2 separate regions of the Homo sapiens genome follow, and region 2 is reported to be linked to region 1. Evidence: microRNA targets listed by miRTarBase, many of them from high-throughput screens and not tested one by one. Region 1 holds a microRNA gene; the other region holds the end of a gene's coding sequence.

The links. The annotated mature microRNA hsa-miR-6814-5p reads UCCCAAGGGUGAGAUGCUGCCA and lies in region 1 at 1,664-1,685, shown strand. An mRNA with a match to its seed (bases 2 to 7 or 8) in the 3' UTR can be bound and repressed. Matches are read on the target gene's strand: a 7mer-m8 pairs with bases 2 to 8, a 7mer-A1 pairs with bases 2 to 7 and ends in A, and an 8mer does both.
Region 2: miRTarBase lists KLB as a target of hsa-miR-6814-5p. Seed matches in the 3' UTR shown: 7mer-A1 at 1,336-1,342 and 7mer-A1 at 2,974-2,980.

What each region holds. Positions count from the first base shown.
Region 1 is chr21:41,745,095-41,748,499 of GRCh38, reverse strand. It overlaps MIR6814 (microRNA 6814), which reads left to right and starts at 1,659; the gene lies at 1,659-1,728. It overlaps RIPK4 (receptor interacting serine/threonine kinase 4), which reads left to right. Exons shown (of 8, transcript NM_020639.3): 5 at 1,729-1,887; 6 at 2,638-2,741.
Region 2 is chr4:39,447,883-39,451,287 of GRCh38, forward strand. KLB (klotho beta) reads left to right here. Exons shown (of 5, transcript NM_175737.4): 5 at 419-3,405. The coding sequence ends at 804. Among named protein-coding and RNA genes, the nearest start is that of RPL9, 9.3 kb to the right of the region's middle.

The DNA.
Region 1 (3,405 bases):
TTTGCTTCCCCAGCCAGGCAGCCACCATTCCGAACACCATCCTCAAAGTTGTCACACCTTGACTTACTTATCATAAAAATCCAGGACTTTTTAGCTTTGTTGGACAGATTCCCTTTTCCTCTAAAGACATTTCTGGGCTACTCATGATATTTTGTGGTGTGACCGAAAATGTCTAAAAATGAAGATGAGAGTCAAGGCCTAGCCCCTTGTTAGTCGGGGCTCAGACTAGGAGCCGATGTATGGGAAAGTGCTGGGGTGAGAAGAGATCTTCCAGCATCGCAAGATCAAGTATCTTGGCAGCTTTAAAAGAATGTCAGTAGAAAGCACAGAACGCGTCCTGCCAGGCCTCTGCTGGCCGGTGTCCGTCTGTGTTGTCTGACCGCCTGTCGCCTTTCTTGCCTTCTGTACGTTCTCCCGCACAGTGGCCTACAGCCCGAAGGCTTGTGAAATGAGGCAGTGTCTGATAGATGTGACACCCGAAGCTAGGCGCAGGGGACAGGTCAAGGCTCAAGCCCTTGTGCTTTATTGCTGAATATGCCTAGTGTTCCCTTATTGGAACGCTAATCATATGGGAATTATTCGTGTCCTACTGTTCAAGGTCATCGCCAAGGTCTGATTTTTCAAATTCAAAAAATTGCAACCTCAGGCAAAAATGGGTAGGAGGGGGTTCAAGGTGCAGGAGAACAAGGCCTCTCCCCAGCTTTTCCAGTCTGTGCTTGGCAGCAGGAAACATTCCGGGCGTTTACTTCAGTTTGCTTCCATTTTATTTAGAGGAGCTGTTGGTTTTGAAGTCTGAATAATCATGGAAATAGCCTGCTAAACACTTAACGATATTTATTGCACAAGATTTAATGGGAAAGTGGAGCAAAACATTGTATGGAATCCTGGCAGCCGTGGGTGATTCTCGGCTGATTTTCCACACCTGCTGAGGCACATGGCCTCTCCAAAGAGCTGCCATTCCATGCGTGGGTGTGTTTGGATCTGGAGGGCAGAGAGGGCTGTTGGGAACAAGAACCTTGAGGGTTCCAGGCTAAGCAGAAAAAAGAACTTGGCCCACTGGATGTCACCCTGGGCCCTTCCCAGTCAGGGTAGAAGTTGTGGCAATAATAATAATAAGCTAGAGCCCATGCATGCTAGTGAAGGCAGTTGGAAAGGACAGGTGCGGCCCCACATGGTGAATTGAGGGGAAAGAGCCCTTCCACACATCCCAGCCCTGGTGCACCGGCAGGGGAGGCCAGCTGGGGACCTGAGCTTGGGATTGGAGTTGGAACTGAGGAAGACTTCTTCGCCATTGTAGAGAGAGTTGGGTCTCTGTGGATGTAGGACGCTGTGGCTCCTCCATGGTGCGTGAGCCTCATTCCCTTTGCTGGCTTGGGCTGTTGATGGAATGAGCCTCATAAGATATTGTTCTCCTTTGAACCTCATCTTCCTTTGGATGGGATGCCTAGAAAGATCTGCTCTGTGACCAAACACACTGACTCCTTCTGGTAGATCAGAACCCAGGGAAAGAGGTCGATTTCAAAACCAGGAAACTAGAGAGCATGGCGCACCATGAGGGTGAGGGTTACAGGAAGCTCTGCCTTTGAAACGGAGTGGGGGAGCCGTCTCCCTGGGGTGGTGTGGGGATGGCCCCATTGTGGCCCCCGGCGAGTGTGTCGTTTCCTCCCAAGGGTGAGATGCTGCCACCCAGCCCTGCAGAGCCCCTGACTCGCATCCTTCCCTTGGCAGATGAGAAGAACATCCTGCACATCATGGTGAAGGTGGTGAAGGGCCACCGCCCCGAGCTGCCGCCCGTGTGCAGAGCCCGGCCGCGCGCCTGCAGCCACCTGATACGCCTCATGCAGCGGTGCTGGCAGGGGGATCCGCGAGTTAGGCCCACCTTCCAAGGTGAGCACCCCGGGGTCTCCCCGCCACATTCTGTGGGTGTCACAGGAGACAGAGGTGACAGACAGGACAGGGTGAGGGACCAGGCCTGGGTGAGAAACAAGGCGTGTAACAGGTGGGCCGAAATGAGCCCTGCACAGATAGGTTGGACCCAGCACCTGCCTGCGGCCTCTGGTACTCACGGCTCGGCCACGGCAGCTGGAACTGAGTTGCCTCCAACCATCCGCCCCCTGCTCCCCACCAGGGTTGGGCTTGCCACCCAGAGGAGTCTGTATGGGAGCCTGAAGTTCAGGTGCAGCCATGCTCTTCCCGGGGACTTACCTGGCCGGTGGCCGGCGGCGTCGCCCTTCTCTTGAGGAGTTGACTTCCTGGGACAGATGTGTCTCTGGCATAGGAAAGTCACCCTGATGAGATGGAAACTGCTGCATTTAAAGCTTACGGCAGGAAACGGGCTGAATGGGGAGCTCATCCGCCAGGTGCTGGCAGCTCTGCTCCCTGTGACTGGCAGGTGGCGCTCCCCCGGGGAAGGCTTCCGCCTTGAGTCTGGTGAGGCCTTCAAATGATTACCGATGGGGGGGCCTGGGTTTGGCCAGCAAATTGTCCATGTAGGGCCCCTGGGCTTGCCTGGTGAGCTCAGGCTGGGCCGAGGCGTGTGAGAAATCCCCCAGCTCGTGGGGGCCCTGCGTTTATATGGAACGCGTGTGTACGCAGAAGTCATCATCCGAGTGACATGTCCCCTTTCTTCCCCACAAGAAATTACTTCTGAAACCGAGGACCTGTGTGAAAAGCCTGATGACGAAGTGAAAGAAACTGCTCATGATCTGGACGTGAAAAGCCCCCCGGAGCCCAGGAGCGAGGTAACGAGTCCTTCCCACAGGGGTCTTTTGTCTCCTCGGCTTCCAGGCAGGAGTTTCCAAACCACTCCTCTTTGCAGAGTCCCCCGCCGCCCGGACCACTCTCCCTCTCTTCTGAGCCCATCCCGCACCCAACTCCATTAGAAGTGTAGGTCCCATGGGGGCTCAGGTCCACCTGCCCGACTGCATCCCCGCCCCACCTCCTGTCTGATTCTGCGTGAGTGGCGGAAGGGCTTCCCTGACACTAAATAGCCACTCATTGGATGTGTGTGGACCACGGGGATCAGAAGGCCCAGCCCCGGCCGGGGAGGGAGAGCTGGTGTCTGAGTGTCTTTGCACCCCTGGCTCGGGGATCCAGTTCCTTTATAGCTGCCCATAAATGGTCTGCACTCTGATGAGTGCCACCCAGGTGATTTCAGATGTGATAAGAAGCTCCAAGTAGCAGGGCTGGCTAAATGCCTTTTCGGGTGATGAGGCTGGAGCAGACCTGTGAGGCCCAGCTGATAAGTGAGCTTTATAACGTGTTATCTGGTGTTGGGCGATTAATCCCAGGCTGTTGGTGTGAGCTCAGGAGATCAGGAAATATGTATATCAGGAATATGCGCCCACTGCCTCAACATAAAGTGCATGTGTGCCAGTGAGCCCGGGAGCAAAGGTGCCCGGGGGT
Region 2 (3,405 bases), not on the chromosome of region 1:
GCTTAAGCGAGCGACAGTGAGTGAGTGGGTAAAACCAACTGTGATTCCTGGGCTGCACCAAGAGCACATCTGAGGTTCACAATCAGGCCAAATAGGCAACGTTTTTCTGCTTGTGACCCTTTAAACAAAAGTGACAACCTTCATTGCTCTGCTCCTTAAATTTGCTTTTTCCTCCAAGAGTTTTTGGATTATTTATGGATCAAGTTTCACTACAAATTTTTCAGACTTAAATTATACATATTTTCACCTTCTCCTTTACATAGATCATAAAAGAATAAATGTCAAAAAAAACCCTCTAATAAAAATCACTACCTTTATTATGGGCATAATTTTAGCTTGTTTCAATGAAAACTAAATTCTTCCTCAAAGATACTTCATAGTCCATTTGTGATTAATGTTAATTTCTTATCTTTTTCAGCATACCTGATTGATAAAGTCAGAATCAAAGGCTATTATGCATTCAAACTGGCTGAAGAGAAATCTAAACCCAGATTTGGATTCTTCACATCTGATTTTAAAGCTAAATCCTCAATACAATTTTACAACAAAGTGATCAGCAGCAGGGGCTTCCCTTTTGAGAACAGTAGTTCTAGATGCAGTCAGACCCAAGAAAATACAGAGTGCACTGTCTGCTTATTCCTTGTGCAGAAGAAACCACTGATATTCCTGGGTTGTTGCTTCTTCTCCACCCTGGTTCTACTCTTATCAATTGCCATTTTTCAAAGGCAGAAGAGAAGAAAGTTTTGGAAAGCAAAAAACTTACAACACATACCATTAAAGAAAGGCAAGAGAGTTGTTAGCTAAACTGATCTGTCTGCATGATAGACAGTTTAAAAATTCATCCCAGTTCCATATGCTGGTAACTTACAGGAGATATACCTGTATTATAGAAAGACAATCTGAGATACAGCTGTAACCAAGGTGATGACAATTGTCTCTGCTGTGTGGTTCAAAGAACATTCCCTTAGGTGTTGACATCAGTGAACTCAGTTCTTGGATGTAAACATAAAGGCTTCATCCTGACAGTAAGCTATGAGGATTACATGCTACATTGCTTCTTAAAGTTTCATCAACTGTATTCCATCATTCTGCTTTAGCTTTCATCTCTACCAATAGCTACTTGTGGTACAATAAATTATTTTTAAGAAGTAAAACTCTGGGGCTGGACGCTGTGGCTCACACCTGTAATCTCAGCACTTTGGGAGGCCGAGGCGGGGAGATCACCTGAGGTGAGGAGTTCGAGACCAGCCTGGCCAACATGGTGAAACCATGTCTCTACTAAAAATACAAAAAATTAGCCAGGCGTGGTGACAGTGGCACCTGTAATCCCAGCTACTTGGGAGGCTGAGGCAGAAGTTTGAACCCAGGAAACAGGTTACAGTAGGCCAAAATTGCGCCACTGCACTCCAGCCTAGGCGACAACAGCAAGACTGTGTCCAAAAAAAAAAAAAAAAGCAAAAGCAAAACTTTGTTTTGTTAGACTCTACAGCAGAGATTTAACACCCTTCTTTAAACTGGGTAGTCAGTGATAGATAATATATATTCTGTCACTTCTAATAAGGTGCCTTCTCCTTTAGGTCAGGGTGGTTCTAAAATGGAAAGAAAACACAATAGGGTAAGTAGTGCTTGTCTAAGCCAGTTACAACACAGACTCTTAAAGAGGATCAAGCCCTTCATTTTTCTAACAACAAAAAATCACCTATAGAATATCTAATTTGTGATCTTTTACTAGATCTGATTTTTTAAAATAATGTAATTTCCGGCCAGGCACGGTGGCACCGCCTGTAATCCCAGCACTTTGGGAGGCCAAGGCAGGTGGATCACCTGAGGTTAGGAGTTCGAGACTAGCCTGGCCAACATGGCAAAACCCCATCTCTACTAAAAATACAAAAGTTAGCCGGGCATGGTGGTGGGCACCTGTAATCCCAGCTACTCAGGAGGCCGAGGCAGGAGAATCGCTTGAACCCGAGAGGCAGAGGTTGCAATGAGCCAAGATCGTGCCATTGCACTCCAGCCTGGGGGACAGGGCAAGACTGTCTCTCAAAATAAAAAAAAATAATAAAAATAAAAATAAAAGTAATTTCCAAAACCTCATCTCATGGAAAGATCACAGGATGAAGGAAAGCTAGACTCAACTCTGTGAATAGAAGTTGCTATACTGTAAGTAAAGCAACAATTCAGAATACTGAATGAGTTTAAATTGTTTTATATAGCACCCTTTTGGGCTAGGGTTAATTACTAGATCTGACTTGGATAATTTGACACTTTGGGAAATGAACTCTGTTCTTGAGACTTGTTCAGTGTATTTTAAACATCTGAGGAAGAAAACTTAAATATGCACCTATTTATACCTATTCTTTCTTTAGGTCAACATTTAACACCCACTGCATACATTAATTTGTCCTTGTCTGCTCACTCCAGCAATTTAGACCTTAACAGTCACAAGAGACGTTCTTCTGTTACAAAGCCTTAGTAAATTAAGGCAGTTTTGATTATATTCTAGGTCCACCTATGTCTGAAGCTAAATTCAGTATCTAACTGCTAATGAACAAGTTTCCAAAATACTGTAAAAATACAATTAGTCAATTTGAGTAAATGCAAATATGATGAGAAATCAATTTGCTATTTGGCCTGGCAAATGGGAACAGTAAAATTCTGCTTTACTCTTCTCTAGTCTCCTTGCCCCAGCTGCACCCACTACCCCAAAGTTGGCAGTTTTGAGGTATGATTTTCAAGGAATTTTTTTAGTATTAACATCTCCCTCTGAGAACTATGTACCTAAGGTCACGCATACAACTAGTCAATTCTGTTTTTATTACTCTAACTATGTAGAAACAGTAAGTCACTTAAAACAATCACTTGGCTGGGTTTTTTCCCCTTTGTGCCACATTGATTCACCCTGACCCAAGAACTCCAGGGAAAATTCTTTAATGTCAACTGGGCAACTCATTAACCTCTCTTTAACATCAAGGGCTTGGGAAAAAAAAAAAAAAGGTTAGCCACAGGAATAACAAAAACCTGGAATTTATCTTTCAGGTTTTGCTTTCTCTTTCTCACTTTGTTTAAAGTATCTCGTACTCACAGTTCACAAATTAACCTTCACTGTCTCTTTCACATTAAGAGCTTATGCTTAAAGCATGCCCCCCTTTTCTAACTTGCTGGTTTACCATAAACTCCCCTAAGTAATAAAATTCCTAACCCAGTACTGAGAGTCCTCCTTCTCTGCCACTTGGGCATTATTTTACTAGTTTTTAAGCCATCATCGCACAAGAATCCAAAAACCCTTAAATTTTTTAACCACTGGCAAATATGTACAGCAAATTAGGTTAAGCATTTAATCTGGCTCATGCTCTATCATACTAAATATTCAGGTTTATCATAAACTCCTTAAAAACCATCAAAGGT